3 separate regions of the Homo sapiens genome follow, and all the other regions are reported to be linked to region 1. Evidence: microRNA targets listed by miRTarBase, many of them from high-throughput screens and not tested one by one. Region 1 holds a microRNA gene; each other region holds the end of a gene's coding sequence. Distances are from middle to middle.
What was found. The annotated mature microRNA hsa-miR-6799-5p reads GGGGAGGUGUGCAGGGCUGG and lies in region 1 at 5,113-5,132, shown strand. An mRNA with a match to its seed (bases 2 to 7 or 8) in the 3' UTR can be bound and repressed. Matches are read on the target gene's strand: a 7mer-m8 pairs with bases 2 to 8, a 7mer-A1 pairs with bases 2 to 7 and ends in A, and an 8mer does both.

Region 2: miRTarBase lists ZNF560 as a target of hsa-miR-6799-5p. The part of its 3' UTR that is shown has no 7-base or 8-base seed match.
Region 3: miRTarBase lists DNAH9 as a target of hsa-miR-6799-5p. The part of its 3' UTR that is shown has no 7-base or 8-base seed match.

What each region holds. Positions count from the first base shown.
Region 1 is chr19:49,786,759-49,793,879 of GRCh38, forward strand. MIR6799 (microRNA 6799) reads left to right here and starts at 5,108; the gene lies at 5,108-5,176. AP2A1 (adaptor related protein complex 2 subunit alpha 1) reads left to right here. Exons shown (of 23, transcript NM_130787.3): 5 at 5,177-5,306; 6 at 6,233-6,334.
Region 2 is chr19:9,460,401-9,467,498 of GRCh38, forward strand. ZNF560 (zinc finger protein 560) reads right to left here. Exons shown (of 10, transcript NM_152476.3): 10 at 5,955-7,098. The coding sequence ends at 6,174. It overlaps LOC105372269 (a long non-coding RNA gene), which reads left to right. Exons shown (of 3, transcript XR_007067133.1): 3 at 1,626-2,129. Among named protein-coding and RNA genes, the nearest start is that of ZNF266, 28 kb to the left of the region's middle.
Region 3 is chr17:11,969,108-11,976,205 of GRCh38, reverse strand. It overlaps DNAH9 (dynein axonemal heavy chain 9), which reads right to left. Exons shown (of 69, transcript NM_001372.4): 69 at 6,458-6,906. The coding sequence ends at 6,679. Among named protein-coding and RNA genes, the nearest start is that of ZNF18, 25 kb to the left of the region's middle.

The DNA of each region.
Region 1 (7,121 bases):
GAGGTTACAAGCCACCCTGAAGAGGGAAGAACCGGGCACTTTGAGGACTGAGAGGGAGGCCACCGTGGCCAACATGTGTGGGTGCAGATGACATTGTCCCTGGAGTGGATGCCGAGGGGTGGTGCTCTGCCAGGGTCAAGGGGCCAGGGTGGGGCTGTCTGGCTCTAGGCTGCCCCCTCCACACTGGAAACTTGGCCTCAGCAGTGACTGGGGCACGAAGGAACTTTATTTTGTAGGTAGACTTTTATTTAACTTTTTATTTTTTGGAGACAGGGTCTTGCCCTGTTGCCCAGGCTGGAGTGCAGTGGCACAGTCTTGGCTCACTGCAACCTCCGACTCCTGGGCTGAAGCGATCTTCCCACCTCAGCCCCCTGAGTAGCTGTGATTATAGGCGTGCACCACCATGCCTGGCTAATTTTTGTATTTCTTTTTTTTTTTGTAGAGATGGGGTTTTGCTATGTTGCCCAGGCTCCAGGCTGGTCTTGAACTCCAGAGCTCAAGCAATCCTCCTGCCTCAGCCTCCCAAAGTGTTGGGATTACAGGTGTGAGCCACCACTCCCATCTAGGCTTTTTTTGTTTGTTTTTTTTGTTTTTTGTTTTTTTTTTTTTGAGGCAGTCTCTCTCTGTCACCCAGGCTGGAGTGCAGTGGTGCAATCTTGGCTCACTGCAACCTCTGCCTCCCAAGTTCAAGCAATTCTCTTGTCTCAGCCTCCTGAGTAGCTGGGATTACAGGTGTGTGCCACCACACCTGGCTATTTTTTTTTTTTTTTTAGTAGAGACGAGGTTTGCCATGTTGGCCAGACTGGTCTCAAACTCTTGACCTCTATTGATCCATCTGCCTCAGCCTCCCAAAGTGCTAGGATTACAGGCGTGAGCCTCTGCGCCCGGTCATTTTAACCATTTGAAGGTGTTCAGTTCAGTGGTTTCTAGTATATTGATGATGCTGTGCAACAACCACTACCACCTAATTGCAGAACACTCATTGCTCCAAAAAAAGACTCTGTACCCATTAGCAGTCCCTCCCCATTCCCTCTTCCCCCCAGCCCCTGGCTGCCACCAATCTGCTTTCTGTCACAGATTTGCCTAATGTGGACATTTCATAGAAATGGAACCGCACAGTAGGTGGCCTTCTGTGTCTGGCTTCTTCCACTCAACAAGATGTTTTTCAGGTTCATCCACATTGTGGTGCATATCCGTGATTTGCTCGAGATAGAGTCTCACTCTGCTGCCCAGGCTGGAGTGCAGTGGCATGATCATAGCTAACTGCAGCCCTGACCTCCCAGGCTCAGGTGATCCTCCCACGTCAGCCACTCCAGCAGCCGGGACTACAGGCACAAGCCACCAGGCCTGGCTAATATTTGAATTTTTTATAGAGACAGGGTCTCACTATATTACCCAGGCTAGTCTTGAACTCCTGAGCTCAAGTGATCCTCCGTGGCCTCAGCTTCCCAAAGTGCTGAGATTACAGGCGTGAGCCACCGCGCCTGACTTGTGGTTTTATTTTTTATACTTGAATATGCAGCTTGATATTGTGTAGTTTAACATTTTCCTAAGTAGCGCCATAGCCCTTATTCCACTTAACCAAGTTGATAAATAGCTCTTATTCCTTTGTGTGGTATCCTTATCTGTAAATGGAGATGATAGAATCCGCGTCCTTAGAGGGCTGTGGTGGGGAGCGAGCGAGCTGTGCGGGAACACTTAGAGCAGAGTTTGGCCCAGAGTCAGGACTCGGGAGATGCGCTGTGGCTCAGGAGATGTGTGCCGTGGCAGCGATGGGAAAGTGGCCCAGAGTCAGGGCTCGGGAGATGCGCTGTGGCTCAGGAGATGTGCGCCGTGGCAGCGATGGGAAAGTGGCCCAGAGTCAGGGCTCGGGAGATGCACTGTGGCTCGGGAGATGAGCGCCATGACAGAGATGGGAAGGTGGCCCAGAGTCAGGGCTCGGGAGATGCGCGCCGTGACGGAGATGGGAAAGTGGCCTGGAGTCAGGGCTCGGGAGATGTGCGCTGTGACGGAGGTGGGAAAGTGCCGTCACAAATGGAGCATCGTCTGTGGCCAGGCTTCTTGCTGGTTTCTGGTTCTAACTTGATGACCACTGGGCAGTGAACGTTTCTGTAGGGTGAGCGTCTGGGGGCAGCACTGCTGGTCTTGGTCTGCTGCACACACAGCAGTGGCCTTTCTAGACAGAGGAAGCCCAGAGCCTCTCCAGAGGGCCTGTCCCTGTGTCCGCCTCCAGCTGCAGCACACGAGGGTTCCCAGCACTTTAGGAGGCCGTAGCAACAGGCGTCAGTCGGGCGAGTATCTGCCTGGATGACGGCAGGAGCCACCTGCTGGGTGGCTGCACATCCAGTGAGACATGCTGCCACAGGCCTTTGACTCGTGCAGGTCTCCCCTCTGAGGACTTCTCCCCTGTGTCTTTTGCTGTCTGTTGGGTGCTTTCTGGGAAACCCTTTACTGATAGGCCATGGCTGGGCCAGTCTTGACAGCTCCCAGCACCTCCTCTTACTCAAGGCTATGGCCATGCACCACACAATCTCATTTCTGTTTTTTTTTGAGACGGAGTCTCACTCTGTCTCCCAGGTTGAAGTGCAATGGTGAGATCTCAGCTCACTGCAACCTCTGCCTCCCAGGTTCAAGCGATTCTCCTGCCCCAGCCTCCCGAGTAGCTAGGATTTCAGGCACGTGCCACCATGCCCAGCTAATTTTTGTATTTTTAGTAGAGATGGGGTTTCACCATGTTGGCCAGGCTGGTCTCAAACTCCTGACCTCAGGTGATCCACCTGCCTCAGCATCCCAAAGTGCTGGGATTATAGGTGTGAGCCACTGCGCCTGGCCTTTTTTTTTTTTTTTTTTTGTAGAGACAGGGTTTTACCACGTTGGCCTGGCCAGGCCGGTCTCAAACACCTGGCCTCAAGTGATCCGCCTGCCTCAGCCTCCCAAAGTGTTGGGATTACAGGTGTAAGCCACCATGCCTGGCCCACCATCTTATTTCTTTCTCCCCAAAGCCGACAAGGCTCCTCATTTTCCTGAAGGGGAAACAGCCCATCAGAGAGGGTCAGTGGCTTACCCCCATCTGTGCCCCACAGTCACAACCTCATGCAGGCGTGTCTGACCCCAGAAGGTGCTCCCCTGGGATCCTCTTCTAGAACAACATCATGCTCCATGCTCTTTGCTGTGCTAGGAGCTGGGTTATGGTTGGGGCCTGGAGTCAGCCCTCTGAGATGGGCTGCCCGCTGGCTGCCAGGTTCTGTGCCAGGCAAGTGCTGACCCTGGTTTCCTGTGACTGCTGTGATGAATTACCACCAGCACAGCGGTGTCAAACACCGGTTCTGGATGTCGGAAGTCCAACATCCATCTCACGGGGCTAAAATCAAGGCGTGGGCAGGGCTCGTCCCTTCCGGGGGCCCTAGAGGAGAGGCCGCGTCCTTGCCTTCTCCAGCTCCTAGAGGCCACCTGCTTTCCTTGGCTCGTGGCCCCTTCCCCCATCCCCAAAGGCAGCAGTGTGGCATCTTCTCTCCTGCCTGACCTCTGTTCCATCCTCACATCATCTCTGACTCTGAACTGTATCTTTCCCTTATAAGGACCCTGTGATGACATTGGGTCCACCTGGATCACCCAGGATCCTCTCTCCATCTCATGATCCTTAACTTTATCATATCTGCAAAGTACCCCCACCCTTTTTTTTGTTTGGAGACAGGGTCTTGCTCTGCCACCCAGGCTGCAGCCTTCACCTCCCAGGCTAAAGCGATCCTCCCACCTCAGCCTGCCAAGTAGGTGGGTCTACAGGCATGCGCCACCACGCTTGGCTAATTCTCATATTTCTAGTAGAGATGGGGGTCTCACCATGTTGCCCAGGCTGGTCTCCAACTCTTGGGCTCAAGTGATTCTCCCACCTCAGCCTCCTAAAGTGCTGGGATTACAGGCGTGAGCCACCCTAACCCCCAGAACCTGTGAATATATTCCCTTGGATTCAAAAGAGCCTTGCAAAGTCTGTTCCCTCACAACAGGCAGAGGGACCCTTTAAAAACCTAAGCCAGATCAAAAATACACCCATTTTCTCAGTTTGTTGTGGAGAGAAGATAAACGTGTGAATCCACCCAGAGACCTGTGGGAGTGCTGGACAGGCCGAAGGGGTCCGGGGGCAGCTGTTCCTGCTGTCGTGTTAACATCACGCTGATTCTCTGCTCACCACCCACAGCGGCTTTCATCTCCCAATCGGTAAAAAGCCAAGTCCTCACTTCAGCCAACAAGGCCCTGCAGGGTCTGGCTCTCTGTTCCCTCCCTGTCCTATCTGCAGCCCTCCTGCCCCATGGCTCAGGCCGCAGCCTGCAGGCCTCCTTGCTGCTCCTCCTACACACGGGCTCCGCCTTCCTGATGGCCTTGGCACAGGCTGTTCCCTCTGCCTGGGATGTTCTGTTGCAGAGGATTTTCAGTCTTTCCTCCTTAAGTTACTCTGTTTTGTTTATTTTTAAATTTTTTTATTTATTTAGAGACAGCTCTAACTCTGTTGCCCAAGCTAGAGGGAGTGCAGTGGCACAGTCATGGTGCACTGCCGCCTCGACCTCCCAGTCTCGAGCAATCCTCCCACCTCACCCTCCCGAGTAGCTGGGATTACAAGCCTGCGCCACCACACCCAGCTAATTTTTGTATTTTTGAAGAGACTGGGTCTCACTGTCGCCCAGGCTGGTCTTGAATTCATGGCCTCAAGTGATCCTCCCACCTCGACCTCCCAAAGTGCTGGGATTATAGGCGTGAGCCACCATGCCCAGCCCTGACAGTATTTGATGTATGTGTTTTCGTGGTGCTGTCTGAAATGTAAGCCCTGTGAGGACAAGTGTTTGGACCACTTTATTCACCACTCTATCCATGGAGTGAACAGCAGTGCCTGGTACCCCATGGGCACCCAGTAGGTGCTTGGTGAATGAATGAAGGTGCAGAGCCAGGCTTGACATGTTCCTGAGCCCTGTGAGGTTACTGAGATGCAATCATTTTGCAGATGAAGACACTGAGTCCTGGTGGGCCGTGAGGTCAGCGCCAGACTGGATCCTGCGGCCGCCTGGCTGTCTGTCCCTCTCGCTGGCCTCGCACACCCTTCCTGGGAGGAACAGGAGAGGAGGGGAGGTGTGCAGGGCTGGGGTCACTGACTCTGCTTCCCCTGCCCTGCATGGTGTCCCCACAGGGACAGCATGGACAGTGTCAAGCAGAGTGCGGCCCTGTGCCTCCTTCGACTGTACAAGGCCTCGCCTGACCTGGTGCCCATGGGCGAGTGGACGGCGCGTGTGGTACACCTGCTCAATGACCAGCACATGGTGAGCCCCCAGCCCTCACACCCCCGGATACCCAGGGCTCCCACCTCAGCCCTGACCCCCCTGGATGCCCGGGGCTCCCACCTCAGCCCTCACACCCCCGGATACCCAGGGCTCCCACCTCAGCCCACGCACCCCCTGGATGCCCGGGGCTCCCACCTCAGCCCTCACGCCCCCGGATACCCAGGGCTCCCACCTCAGCCCTCACGCCCCCTGGATGCCCAGGGCTCCCACCTCAGCCCTCACGCCCCCGGATACCCAGGGCTCCCACCTCAGCCCTCACGCCCCCGGATACCCAGGGCTCCCACCTCAGCCCTCACGCCCCCTGGATGCCTGGGGCTCCCACCTCAGCCCTGATCCCCCTGGATTCCTGGAGCTTCCCCCTCGGCGCTGACGTTCACCAGACACCAGAAACCATGATCCAGTGTCCCCGGTACTCATTACCTGCCCAAGTGTCCAGAAACCCTCCCATCCCCATCTCTGACACTCCCCTGGCTGGCCAGGGATCCTGTCCAGTGACCCCCACACCCCTCACCAACCACCCAGTCCCTTAGAAAATCCCACTCTGTTTCTAATACCTGGAGATTCCCCCAACAGCGCCCATCACCTGCGCACCAGCGCAGAAACCTTGACTGTCCCACCCCCACAGTCCCAACCCTCTAGAGTCTCGCCCCTTCACTGCTCCTTACCCAGCTGCCTGGGGTCCTGCCAGGGACACCCCACACACCCAGGTCAGTGCTGGCCATGGCGCCCGAGGCCCCGTGGCCTCCTCACCCCACCCCTAAAGCACGCACAGTGACACATGTGCACACCCCTAAACCCCATCTTCCCGACTGCACACACATCCCGACCCTGTCCCGCTCCTGAGCCTCTGCTCTCAGGTACCACCTCCCCCAGGGGCCTGACTTGTCTCTCCTCTGCCCCTGCAGGGTGTGGTCACGGCCGCCGTCAGCCTCATCACCTGTCTCTGCAAGAAGAACCCAGATGACTTCAAGACGTGCGTCTCTCTGGCTGTGTCGCGCCTGAGCCGGGTGGGTGTGGCCTAGATATTGGCTGCTGGAGGTGGCCCTGGCATCCCTATGCCCTCTGACACCCCTCAGGCCCCCACTCTCCCTGAGAGGCAGCCCAGCCCAAGGTTTACAAACTCAGGCTCTGAGCTGGATTCATCCTGGCTCGGCCTCTTCCTGGCTGGGTGGCCCTGGACAAGTGGCTTCACCTCCCTGGCCTCAGCTGCCCCCTGTGTTCAGTGGGGATAATACCGGTGCCCACCTGGAGGCACAGAGCGCTGTGGATAGAGTGCTCAGAACAGGGCCTCGCGGGCCGAGCACCCCGGGAGCCAGCCGCCCTCATGACCTCCTCCCTCTCCCACTTCTCTCTCTGTCTCCCACTTTCCCTCTTCTGGCTTTGCCTCCCGCCTCTCTCTTTCCTGTGCAGCCTCTCACTCCTGCCTGGCGTCCCTCTCCCACCTTTGCTCCTGTCCTGCCCAGGAACATCCCCTGAGGCCTTGTGCATGCCAGGCTCCATGTCGGGTGACACCAGGGACACAGATGAGTCAGAACCAAGCTCTGCTCTTAAGGAGCTCCCTGTCCTTCTGGCAGGGAGGTGACTCAGTCACAGATTGTCAGAAAAGGGGTGACTCGTGCTATAATGGAGGTAGGATAGGTCACCCATAGGAGGCACTTAACACAGCCTGTGAGTCCACGAAGGCTTCCTGGGGGCGGCGATCCCAGAATTGAGACTTAGAATACACATGCGCATCTCCTGGGCAGTCAGGAAGAGGCCTGGATTCGCAGGCAAAGAGAAGAACACACCAGCTCG
Region 2 (7,098 bases), 40 Mb from region 1:
ACAAAAAGAGCAATTATACTCATTGGGCATATTTACCTTTTCCACCACTTCTATGGCCTGTAACTTGGCTGGACCCCCCAGTGGAGGTATACACTAATAATAGCTCTTGGATGCCTGGTCCTACAGATGATAGAGGCCCATCTCACCCACACAGGGAAGGAACTGTTATGAGTATTTCTTTAGGATTTAAGCATCCGCCCATCTGTTTGGGAAAGGCCACTAGTTGCCCACCCCCTCAGTATCAATCTTGGCTGGCAATAATGCCTGGACGTAATCACTCTATGGCAGTTACACATGCTTTCTGGTGTCAGTATTTACCATAATGAATCTGCTCCTCTAATTGAGGCATACCGCCCTCAAAAACCTATTTGTAAACAGGATTGGACCCGGTCAGAAAAAATGAATGTACTCATTTGGGAAGATTGCATTGCAGGACAGGCAGAGGTGCTGCATGATTCCTATGGAATCATTATTGATTGGTCCCCTAAGGGGATGTTTAGCATGAATTGCACCTCTGTCTGCATGTGATGGCCACACTATGTTCAGCTGGTCTGAATAAAACGATCAGATGGTAAAAATGATAAGAAGTACCGCAAGAGTTCCTATTATCTGGAAACATGACGGTATAGTGGCACCTCAACCTCAAATGATATGGCCCGCTGTAGGAGCTAAACATAAGGATTTGTGGAAACTATTAATAGCTTTTGATAAGATCAAGATTTGGGAAGGAAAATATACTATGCCATCACAATATAATCCTAATTACATTTTAGAACTTGTTGAAAATAATACAATTTGGATACAAAGTTGTGTTCACCCTCCTTTTGTTGGTAATGGGCGATCTAAAGTTTGACACCCCTAATTATCATGTAACTTGCCAGGAAGGTAGATTGTCCTCTTGTGTGAACTCTTCCTTGTTTAATACTAATCATTCTATACTAGCAGTGAGAGCTCAAGAAGGAGTTGGTTACCGGCGAAGCTTTCCCATCCTTGGGAACCCTCTCCCTCTGTACATATTATTACTAAATTCTTCAGAAAATTCTAAGAAGTTCTCAGTGTTTCATTGCTACTTTAATCTTGATTATTATGGGACTGATTGCTGTCACAGCTACTGCTGCAGTAGCTGGAGTGGCACTACATTCATCAGTGCAGACAGCAGATTTTGTAAATAATGGCAAAAGAATTCTACTCTGCTGTGGAACTCTCAAACTAAAATAGACCAAAAGATAGTTAATCAAATCAATGATCTCCAACCAACTGTAATGTGGGTGGGAGATCAAGTAGCTAGTTTGGAATATGGAATGCAGCTGAAATGCGACTGGAATACTTCTGACTTTTGTATCACTCCTCACCCTTATAATGAATTAGACCATGAATGGGAAAGAATAAAAAAAAGTATCTGGAAGGACACTCTACAAACTTGTCTTCGGATGTTGCAAAATTAAGAGAACAAATATTTCAAGCATCCCAGGCACACCTGACCTTAATGCCAGGAACTGGAGTGCTTGAAGGAGTTGCAGATGGATTGGCAGCCATAAATCCTATGAAATGCATAAAAACACTTGGAGGCTCTGTGATTTCTATGATGGTTGTGCTATTAATCTGTGTTGTTTGTCTTTGTGTAGTCTGCAGATGCGGATCCTGACTCCTGCAAGAAGTAGCTCACTGTGATAAAGCCGCCTTTGCTTTTATTGCCCTGGTAAAACAAAAAGGGGGACATGCTGGGAATAGGCCCCAAGCCTGGCCATAAACAAGCCATAAGAAAAGTCATAAACAAGATCTCTGCAGCACTGTGACATGCTCGTGATGGTTATGATGCACACACTGGAGGTTGCTGGTTCACCAGAATGAGGGCAAGGAACACCTGGCCCACCCAGGGCGGAAAACTGCTCAAGGTGTTCCTAAACCACAAACAATGGCATAAGCAATCTGTGCCTTAATGACATGCTCCTGCTGCAGATAACAAGCCAGAGCCTGTCCCTTTGTTCTCCTTAAAGAATACTTTCAGTTAATCTACAAACTACAGAAACGATGTTTATCACAGGCTGTCAATAAATAGGTGGGTCAAACTCTGTTCGAGGCTCTCAGCTCTGAAGGCTGTTAGCCCCCTGATCCCACTTTGCACTCTATTTCTGTCTATGTCTTTATTCCTCTAGTGCTGCTGGATTGTGGTCTCCATGACCGACCTGGTCTTGGCAAATATTACATGCCAATGTTAATAATATTTTTAAAAAATCTTTACACTATAGGTATATAAAATATTCTAGCAAAAAAAAAAGTTAATCCATTATACTCAAACTGCATTTTTCTGGAATTACAAAGATAATATAACATTGGAATGTCAATCAGTTATCTTTCCACATTTTAAAAAAACTTTTATTTACTTACACATTTAAATATTAGGTATCTATCAAGGGCAAGTACAGTCAGTCCTAGGTACCTGAATTTTCTGAGTAAGGCAAGATCATCAAAGAGGAATCAGGGAAAAGCATTCAATAAATTCTTAAGCCATTCATGGGAAAGATTCCCTAAGCAATGAAAAGTAGAAAAAAACCTTGACCTTTTAAAAATCTACAGCAACCAATACAGTGATTAGTAATGATGGAAAACATCTGCCATTAGGATTAGAAATAAAAGTATGCTTGTTTTACTACTTCTAGTTATTATTCTAGTATTTTCTGCCTAGACAAGACATAAATGACTGAAGGTTACAAGTTAAGTCAGTTACAGATAATATGAAATGTGGAAAACCCAAAATACATAAAACTAGGATGTTAAAGAATGTTGAACAAGGCTTCTAGTAAAATTCAGTATACAAAGATCAAGTGATTTTATATAAACAATCAGAAATCAGCTTCTAAAAAAAATAAAAAAGGAAATCAGCTTCTGAAGCTAGGCAATTTCTAGGCTGTGAGACTAGGGTATCATTTCTTAGTGATACATCACTATTAGTCCAAGCACCAGGATGAGGCCAACCTACAGTATTGACCTCACCTGTGACCCACAAGTGCTCATACTCCAACAACTGTGAAAAAGTTTCAGGAATAACCTATAGGTTTTATTTGAGACAATCAGGATGGCATCTAAGGACAGTCTGTGAGGTGACAGAAGTCACACAAGGCAATTAAGACTAATCTGCGTCTTTTGTGTCACTGGTAACAGTTAAACGCAACAAAGATGGGTTAAAATAATCACACTCATACCACAAGAGAACCACTCTGAAACCCTTTCCTCTCCATAAGAAAACATGTAACATGAAAATGCATGGACCTCAATTCAGTTTTTTTGGTTTTGTTTTGTTTTTGAGACAAGGCCTCTGTCACCCAGGTTGGAGTCCAATGGCACGATCTGAGCTCACTGCAGCCATGACCTCCCTGGGGTCAGTGAGACACCTATCTCAGCCTCCTGAGTAGGTTGGACTACAGGCACGTGCCATCACACCAGGCTAATCTTTACATTTTTTGTAGAGATAGGGTTTTGCCATGTTGCCCGGGCTGGTCTTGAACTCCTGAGCCCAAGTGATCCGCCTGACTTGGCCTCCCGAAGTGCTGGGATTACAGGCATAAGCTATTACACCCAGCTGATTCAGGATTGGTAAACTTACCTGAAGCTTTGGATTACCATTACACTGGCTGGATTAAGAACCACAGAAAGAATCACCAAGAAACAACAGCCTTAATTGCTGTACATGATATAACAGAAATATTTAAATTTGTACCACTCAGACTGGAACCTGGTTATGCAGCTTGTGCGTGTGTGTGTATTCCAGGGCCATGTTCAGGAAGTGCTAGTGATGGTGTCAAGCACAGCAGAATATCATGATCATCCATGTTCACAGGAGTTTTTCTGTTTTCATAGCACATGGGCAAAATGAAACCCCAGAAATAGGTCATACTGCCAATCATAGCAGTTAACTGAGTCAGGCATATATGACTGCTTTGCCAAACAGTGGCATCAAAGACAACATTCGTGGTTCCCACCACCTCTCTGCACTGCCTGATAGTACAAGAGTTCCCACCTCTCCAGGTGAAGGGTTATGGGTGTCCCTCCACGGCCATGAAATCACGGTATCTTAAGTTACTATCTGTTAGTGCACCCTTTCTCCACTCAGACCCTTCTTCAACCCTGACCATTTATCTGAAAAGATCAGGTTTGAAAAGAGGAACAAGAGTATTTTTACATTTTAAAGCTGTATTATAACTTTTACCTTGGCCAGTGTGAGCCACTACAGGTGGACCATGTCTAAAAATATGACAAACCAAAAAGAGAATCTACACTGTTAAAACAGGATTGTCTGAATCCTGAAGGCCCACTTTAGGTCAGTTGTAACCCAGAGGATGTATAGCAACTAGAGTGGTGTTGCTATAGGAGAAAGACATACCATGCCAGGAATGAGCAGCGGGGTGTAAGAAACTTCCAAAATAGTTCTATAGAACCACCCAGAAAGCCAGGCTTTGACAGGTTTCAGAGAAGCAATCCTGATATTCCATACATGCCCAGTTTCTCATAAGTGTGAATGCCCCTCATATTCACTAAAGGACGAAGAATATAAAAAATTACTTTCCAACATTTATTACCTTCATGAAGTTTTTCTCCACTATAAAATTACAGGTAAACACCAAAGTATTTGGCAAGAATAAAACTTCTGAACATATCTTACATCAAACATCTTACATAAAAAGGGTTTATCTCCATTCCAAGAACCCAAGGAAACAGTGAAAGCTATTGATTTTTTTTTTTTTTTTTTTTGAGATGGAGTCTCGCTCAGTCGCCAGGCTGGAGTGCAGTGGCATGATCTTGGCTAACTGTAACCTCTGCCTCCCTGGTTGAAGCGACTCTCCTGCCTCAGGCTCTTGAGTAGCTGGGATTACAGGGGTGTACCACCATGCCCAGCTAATTTTTGTATTTTTAGTAGAGACAGGGTTTCACCATGTTGGCCTGGATGGCCTGGATAGTCTCGATCTCTTGACCTCGTGATCCACCTGCCTCAGCCTTCCAAAGTGCTGAGATTATAGGCATGAGCCACTGCGCCTGGCCAGCTCTCTATGTTTCTAACATTGTACAGCTTCAGGATGAACTCTTACACAGTGTATTGTCAGCAGATTCCAACGGTTCTCCCACATGCCTTTAACTTTATGGAGCATCATCAGAGTGTAAGTTCTTTCCTATCTTTGAAGTGAACAGGGACAAATGAGCACTTTGACACAGTGCTTACATTGTTTTCTCACCAGTGTGAATTACAATGTGACTATTAAGGCATATGGACTTCCAAAAGGATTTTCCTCATTCCTTACATAAAATGGGTTTCTTGGCCAGGCGCGATGGCTCACACCTGTAATTCTACCACTTTGGGAGGCCAAGGCGGGCAGATTACCTGAGGTCAGGACTTCAAGACCAGCTTGGCCAAAATGTTGAAACCCCGTCTCTACTAAAAATACAAAAAATCAGCCAGGTGCAGTGGTGTGTGCCTATAATCCCAGCTACTCGGGAGGCTGAGGCAGGAGAATCGCTTGAACCCAGGAGGCGGAGGTTGCAGTGAGCCGAGATCATGCTACTGCACTCCAGCCTGGGCTACAGAGTGGGACTTCATCTCAAAAACAAACAAACAAAAAAACATGGTTTCTCTCCATGGTGTTTCTACACGTTCAGTAAGATGAGAAGAATGCCAGGTGCAGTGGCACACACCTGTAATCCCAGCATTTTGGGAGGTGGAAGCACATGATCACATGAGGTCAGGAGTTTGAGACTAGCTTGGCCAACATGGTGAAATTCTGTCTCTACCAAAAATATAAAAAATTAGCCAGGTGTGGTGGTGCATGCCTGTAATCCCAGCTACTCAGGAGACTAAAGCAGGAGAATTGCTTGAACTTGGGAGGCAGAGGTTGCAGTGAGCCAAGATCATGCCACTGCACTCCAGCCTAGGTGACAGAGTGAGACTCATCAAAAAAAAAAAAAGAGAGAGAGAAGAACTAGTGTTTTCCTACATCCCTTACATTTACAGGGTTTCTCTACAGTGTGAGTTTGTACATATCTAGAAAGATTCAACTGTTCAGGCTTTCTCACATTCCTTACATTGATAGTGTTACTTTCTCCTGTGAATTTTTACATGTTCAGTTAGGCTTGAGGAAACAGCAAAGGTTTTTCCACATTCTTCACATCCACAGGGCTTCTCTCTAGTGTGTTTTCAAATGTGCAATACGAGCTGAGAAAGAAGCAAAGGCTTTCCCACACTGGTCACATTCAAAGGGTTTCTCTCCCATATGAGTTCTTAAATGTTGAATACGTCCTGAGGATGTACGGAAGGCCTTCCCACATTCCTTACATTTATAGGGCTTCTCTCCAGTGTGAATTCGCACATGATTAGTAAGATCTGAATGACAAGTGAAGGCTTTCCCACAGTCCTTACATTTATAGGGTTTTATTTTGGTGAGAGTTTTTAAGCGATCATGAAAGCACATGGAATTTCGAAAGGAATTTCCACATGCGTTACATTCAGAGGTCTTCTCTGCTGCATGAGTTTTTAAGTGTTGAGTTAGTACACAAGACCTACTGTAAGCTTTTTCACATGCATTACATTTATAGGGTTTATATCCAGTGTGAGTTCTTAAATGATCAACTAGACTGGAGGAGACAACAAAGGCTTTCCCACAGTCCTTATATTCATAGGGCTTATCTCCAGTGTGTCTTCGTAAATGTTTAGTAAGATCTGAGCGTTCTGTGAAGGCTTTTCCACATTTCTTACATTCATATGGCTTCTCTCCACTGTGTCTTCGTAAATGTTTAGTAAGGTATGAGCGCTCAGTGAAGGCTTTCCCACATTTCATACATTCATAGGGTTTCTCTCCAGCGTGTGTTCGTAAATGTTTGGTAAGATATGAGCACTTAGTGAAAGCTTTACCACATTTCTTACATTGATAGAGTCTCTCTTCTGTGTGAGTTCGCATGTGAATACGAAGACAGGCAGAAGAGGTAAATGGTTTCCCACATTTGTAACACTTAAAGGGCTTCTCACCAGTGTGAGTTCTCAAATGAGCAAAAAGAGATGAGAAAGAAACAAAGACTTTCCCACACTGGTCACAATCAAAGCGTTTCTGTCCT
Region 3 (7,098 bases), not on the chromosome of region 1:
TATAAAAGGACTAAGAATTGGGAGGACCTAGGACATCTAATTAGAGAGTGCCTATGGAGGTTCAGCATAGTCCTGCCAGCAAAGATTATTTATTCAAGAGTTAAGAGTGGCAGTTTGGGGATAGGACGAGGAGATATCAGCTGTGATGGCTTGGAGAAACAGTGTAAACCGGCAGTGTAAACAAGAGCAGGGCATGTATGAGTAGTTGAGAATGGTGAATAGGAGTATGACTAGACGGAAGATAGTAGGGATGACAAGTTATTTGGGGGCATAGTCGAAGTTGGTCTGGTGTCTGGAATGAGACTGGGGCCTAATAAAAAGGAGCGTCTATACAGGAGCTTAAATGGGCTGTACCTTGTAGCATTCTGAGGACAGGTCTGACTTCTGAGAAGGGAAAGTGGTAAAAGTATTGTCCAGTCCTTTTTAAGTTGGTGGCTGAGCTTGGTGAGGTGTGTTTTTAATAGACCATTAGTCTGTCACTGAATACTAAGAGCCTGAAAAAATGCTTGGCTGATTTGACTAATAAAGGCTGGTCTGTTATCAGACTGTATAGAGGTGGGAAGGCTAAACTGAGGAATTATGTCTGACAGAAGGGAAGAAATGACTACGGTGGCCTTCTCAGACCTTGTAGGAAAGGCCTCTAAAAGTATTAAAGCAGCGGCAGCCGCTGCACGCAGACATGAGGGCTAGGCTAAAACAGTAAGGTCAAGTTGTTTGGACAGAAAGGCTACAGGGTGCGGTCCTGGCTCTTGTGTAAGAATTCTGACTGCATTAACCATGCCTAGGAAGGAAAGGAGTTTGTTGTTTTGTAAGGGATTGAGGTTTGGGAGATTAATCAGACACGATCAGCAGGGAGAGCTCGTGTGTTTTTACGAGAATTATGCCGAGATAGGTAACAGATGAGGATGAAATTTGGGCTTGACTGAAGTAATGGGGGCTGTCTGTGAAGCCTTGCGGCAGTACAGCCCAGGTAATTTGCTGAACCTGATGAGTGTCAGGGTCAGTCCAAGTGAAAGCGAAGAGAGGCTGGGATGACAGGTACAAAGGAGTAGTAAAGAAAGCACGTTTGAGATCCAGAACAGAATAATGGATTGTGGAGGGAGGTATTGAGGATAGGAGAGTATATGGGTTTGGCATCATAGGGTGGATAGGCAAAACAATTTGGTTGATAAGGCATAGATCCTGAACTAACTTGTAAGGCTTGTCTGGTTTTAGGACAGGTAAAATGGGGGAATTGTAAGGAGAGTTTATAGGCTTTAAAAGGCCATGCTGTAGCAGGCGAGTGATAACAGGCTTTAATCCTTTCAAAGCATGCTGTGGGATGGGATATTGGCATTGAGCGGGGTAAGGGTGATTAGGTTTTAATGAGATGGTAAGGGGTGCATGATCGGTCACCAAGGAGGGAGTAGAGGTATCTTATACTTGTGGGTTAAGGTGGGGGATACAAGAGGAGGACGCAAAGGAGGCTTTGGATTGGGAAGAAGGGCAGCAATGAGATGTGGCTGTAGTCCAGGAATAGTCAGGGAAGCAGATCATTTGGTTAAAATATCTCGGCCTAATAAGGGAACTGGGCAGGTGGAGATAACTAAAAAAGAGTGCATAAAAGAGTGTTGTCTAAGTTGGCACCAGAGTTGGGGAGTTTTAAGAAGTTTAGAAACCTGGCTGTCAATACCCACAACAGTTATGGAGGCAAGGGAAACAGGCCCTTGAAAAGAAGGTAATGTGGAGTGGGTAGCCTCCATATTGATTAAGAAGGGGACGGACTTACCTTCCACTGTGAGAGTTACCTAAAGCTCGGCGTCCGTGATGGTCTACGGGGCTTCCGAGGCGATCAGGCAGCGTCAGTTTTCAGCCGGTAAGCCAAGAAGGAGTCAGTCAGAGAGCCCTGGGTCAGAGTTCCAGGGGCTCTGGGAGTGTCTGCCAGGTGAGTTGAACAGTCCGATTTCCAGTGGGGTCCCGTACAGATGGGACACGGCTTAGGAGGAATCCTGGGCTGCAGGCATTCCTTGGCCTGGTGGCCAGATTTCTGGCACTTGTAGTAAGCTCCTGGGGGAGGAGGTTCTGGAGGAACGCCTGGCTGCTGCAGTTCAGGCGTTTGGAAGTTCTTGTGTGCTGGAGATGTGGCTGGGGTTTGTCTCACAGTGGAGGCAAGGAATTGCAACTTTTTTCTGTTATTGTACACCTTGAAGGTGAGGTTAATTAAGTCCTGCTGTGGGGTTTGAGGGCCAGATTCCAATTTTTGGAGTTAATGTCGGGAGCAGATTGGGTAATAGAATGTATATTGAGAATAAGACGGCCTTTTGACCTTTTAGGGTCTGGGGCTGTGAAGCGCCTCAGGGTTGCTGCCAAACGAGCCATGAACTGGGTTTTTATATTTGGTGAAAAAGAGCCTAAACGCTATCTGATCTGGGATAAAGAAAAAGGAGCATTAACCTTGACTATGTCTTTAGCTCCAGCCACCTTTTTAAGAGTAAATTGCTGGGCAGGTGGGGGAGGGCTAGTCACGGAATGAAACTGTAAGCCGGAGCAGGTGTGAGGAGGGGAGGCGATAAAAGGATTATAGGGTGGAGGAGTGGAGGCTGAGGAAGAATTGGGACCTAGCTTGGCCAGGCGAGGAGGGGAGAGGTCAGATGGGTCTGTAGAAAAGGAAGATTAGAAAGACTCAGCGACGCTTGGGGTTGGGACTGAGGGGACAGGCGGGAGATTTGGGACGAGTTGCATTGGGCACAGAGACTAGGAATGGACTGATGTGTAAAAGAATGCCTGGACGTCAGGCATCTCAGACCATTTGCCCATTTTACGACAAGAATTAGTTAGATCTTGTAGGATGGAAAAATTGAAAGTGCCGTTTTCCGGCTATTTGGAACTACTGTGGAGTTTGTATTGGGGTCAAGCGGCATTGCAGAAGAAAATAAGACGCCTAGATTTTAGGTCAGGTGAGAGTTGAAGAGGTTTTAAGTTCTTAAGAATACAGGCTAAGGGAGAAGAAGGAGGAATGGAAGGTGGAAGCTTGCCCATAGTGAAGGAGGCAAGCCCATAGTGAAGGAGGCAAGCCCAGAGAAAAGAGAGCGTAGAGACACGGAGGGAAGGGGTTCGGGGGTTCTTACCTTCCAGAAAAGCGGGAGGGGGGGGTCGGGGCGCGGAAATAAGGCATTGGGGCGCAGAGATAAGGGATTGGGGCGCAGAGATAAGAGGTTGGGGCGTGGAAATAAGGGATTGGGACGCAGAGATAAGAGGTTGGGGCGTGGAAATAAGGGACTGGGGCGCAGAGATAAGAGGTTGGGGTGTGGAAATAAGGGATTGGGGCGCAGAGATAAGGGATTGGGGCGCAGAGACAAGAGGTTGGGGCGTGGAAATAAGGGACTGGGGCGCAGAGATAAGAGGTTGGGGTGTGGAAATAAGGGATTGGGGGGTTCTTGCCCCCTAGGAAAGCGGGACTTGCCGCTAAGGGTGAAGGAGAAGGGGTTGAGGGGTACTTGCCCCTGCCCCAGAAAAGCAGAGAAGGGGTAGAGACAAGAGAAGGGGTTGGGGTACTTGACCCTTCCCCAGAAAAGCGGGACTTGCCACTAAGGGTGAAGGACCAAGGCAGGCGTCCCTGTGTGGTCTGACACCCTTGAAATGTGAGTGTATAATCAGAGAGGTGTCCCTGCAATGATTAAACACCAAGGGAAGGCTGCCTTCCCAGTCCGTGACCGGCGCCGGAGTTTTGGGTCCACGGATAAAACGTGTCTCCTTTGTCTCTACCAGAAAATGAAAGGAATTGAAATTAAGAGAAGGGAGAGATTGAAGTGTGGCGCCAAGATTGAAAGGAGAAAGAGGTTGAGGGATAGTGAGGGAGGTTGGAGAAGAGAGTAAAAAGAGGCCACTTACCGGATTTGAGATTGGTGAGATGTTTCTTGGGCTGATCAGTCTGAGGACCTGAGGTCGTAGGTGGATCTTTCTCATGGAGCAAAGAGCAGGAGGACGGAGGATTGATCTCCCAAGGGAGGTCCCCCGATCCGAGTCACGGCACCAAATTTCATGTGCGTCCGTGTGAAGAGACCACCAAACAGGCTTTGTGTGAGCAACATGGTTGTTTATTTCACCTGGGTGCAGGTGGGCTGAGTCCGAAAAGAGAGTCAGCAAAGGGAGATAGGGGTGGGGCCGTTTTATAGGATTTGGGAAGGTAATGGAAAATTACAGTCAAAGGGGGTTGTTCTCTGGTGGGCAGGGGCGGGGGTCACAAGGTGCTCAGTGGGGGAGCTTCTGAGCCAGGAGAAGGAAATTCCCAGGGTTAATCATTCAGTTAAGTTGGGGCAGGAACAAATCACAATGGTGGAATGTCATCAGTTAAGGCGGGGCAGGGCCTTTTCACTTCTTTTGTGATTCTTCAGTTACTTCAGGCCATCTGGGCGTATAGGTGCAAGTCACAGGAGATGCGATGGCTTGGCTTGGGCTCAGAGGCCTGACAGTGAGACTTCCCCCTCCCACCATCTTCCACCTCCCACCATCTTCCACCTCCTTCTTTAGGCCTGATTTTTTTTTTTTTTTTTTTTTTTTGGTGAGACAGAGTCTTGCTTTGTCGCCAGGCTGGAATGCAGTGGTGCAGTGGCGTGATTTCGGCTCACTGCAACCTCCGACTCCCTGGTTCAAGCAATTCTCCTGCCTCAGCCTCCCGAGTAGCTGGGATTACAGGCACGCACCACCAAACTCAGCTAATTTTTGTATTAGTAGAGACGGGGTTTCACCATGTTGGCCAGGATGGTCTTGATCTCCTGACCTTGTCATCCGCCTGCCTCAGCCTCCCAAATTGCTGGGATTACAGGCATGAGCCGCTGTGCCCGGCCTGCCTGATGTTATTATACTACTATGGGTGAGGCTCAGGAAGGATGATGCTAATGTGGACAGAGTTATCTCCCTGAAAACAGATTAACCTATAGTCAGGAAACTGCAAGTGCATTACTAGTTGATGGGAGAGGAGGGACAACACCCAAGCTGGAGGTCCTGGCTTCCAGCAGTAAAATTTATTAACTCCCTTGTATCATGAAGATGAGAAGGCCCCACTTAGGGGGTGCAGGAACTGCAAGGAAGAAAGCAGGAAAATCATAGAGGAATTAGCATCAGATTCCATATTCTATATAGCAGAGATTTATAGGATGATGGGATTTGAGGTTTTAAATCACGAGTTCTCAAACTGGCCTCCAGACCAGCAGCATTGGCAATTTGTTTAAACTTACTGAATCAGAAATATTGAAGGGCGGGTCCCAGTAATCTTTGTTTTAACAAGCCCTCCAGGGGATTCTGATGCCTGTTCAAGTTTAAGAACCACTGTTCAAAACAGTAATCACAAAATTAAGTTTCTGCAAGGTTAGGAGGGAATAATCACAGAAGGAATACTGGGTCCTCCCATACTTTTCTTACCAAACAAGCTGCCTCATAGAGCTTTTTAAAACTCATCAAAACTGTTAAACCCATTGGACTTCCAGTGAAAATTTGTTCCACGGAGGTAAATCTAGAAAACTTTTAGATTAAAAAGCTTTAGAATGGCCAGGCGCGGTGGCTCACGCCTGTAATCCCAGCACTTTGGGAGGCTGAGGCAGGCACATCACCTGAGGTCAGGAGTTCAAGATCAGCCTGACCAACATGGTGGAACCCTGTCTCTACCAAAAATATAAAAATTAGCCAGGCATGTTGGCAGGCGCCTGTAATCCCAGCTAGTTGGGAGGCTGAGGCAGGAGAATCGCTTGAACCCAGGAGGTAGAGGTTGCAGTGAGCAGAGATTGCCCCAGTGCACTCCACCCTGGGTGACAGAGCGAGACTCCATCTCAAAAAAAAAAAAAAGGCTTTACAGTAAAGATTTCTTCTTGGCTTCCTCTTAAATGATCGAAAGGATGATGGAGATACTTCCTGTTTGCTTGTTCACATTGTATCCACAACAAATAGTAGGTGTCAGATTAAAATGTATTGAGTGGATGCATGAATTAATGAAGGATAAATATCAGTATACACATCCCTTATCCTCTACAGCAGGGATCAGCAAAATATGGCCCATTGCTTGTTTTTGTAAATAAAATTTGTTAGAATGCAATCACACCCCTTCATTTACTCATCATTTATGGTTACTGTTGGTCTACCACGGCAAAGTTGCAAAGTTCAAACAGAGGCATTGTGGCCTGTAAATCACTAAAAGTATTCACTAACTGGCTCTTTATGGAAAAATGTTGGTGACCCCTGCTCCAGGATAGTGTTTCTCAAACTATAATGTGCATACAGATTTTCCAGAGAGATTGTTAAAATGGAGATTCTGGTTCATGGGTGATGCCAATACCACTGGTCCAAGGACTGCGTGGGGTAGCCTGGAAGAAGAGCACCTAGGATAGTGTTGTGTAACAAGGTCAGGGCCCTTGTGGTTTGTTTCTCTTGGTCTCTACATGATCATTTATGATTCAGCAGCTCTCAAATCCTGGGCCAGACACAGTTGAAGAGTAAATCATTTTATTAAGAAACCTGGGCCCACATTCCTTCAGCTCAGCCTCACCTTAGGCACACCTCTCCAAGTTCCCTAGAGGAATTCTACAGAATTGTGAGTGCTCATGGTTTCTTACCGTTCTAAGTGTCTGTGGTGACCCTTCACCCACCTGTCCCTCTAGGCAGCCTCCAAGCCCAGCTTTTTTATTTTCTCGGTGGCTCTGCAGGATGCTAAATCTGGAGAAGCAAGGCTACTCCAGCCAGAACCCACTTGGATGGGTTTTCCTTAGTCTTCAGGTTGAAAGTCCACACGTAGGTGGGTCCCCGCTGACTAGTCTTGTACACAGGACAGGAATAGACACTGCGGCAGTCCTGCTTATCTGCAGGAATGGCCTTGATGAACATCACAGGCATAGGGGGTGTCAGATCCTTCAGCTTTGCCTCTGTAATGATCCCAGCCTGAGGATAAAACATGAGAAGAGGCACCTTAGATCAGACCCAGAGCCCAGCCAACCAGCCTTGCTCTTGTCAGCAGATCCAAGGGAGGAAAGACTGGACTGACATGGCTGCCTTTATGCCTGCCCCCTTCCAGGTTTTCTCAGCAGCCTTTGATGGAATGCATCTGATATGTAGAAACACGTTTCTATTTTT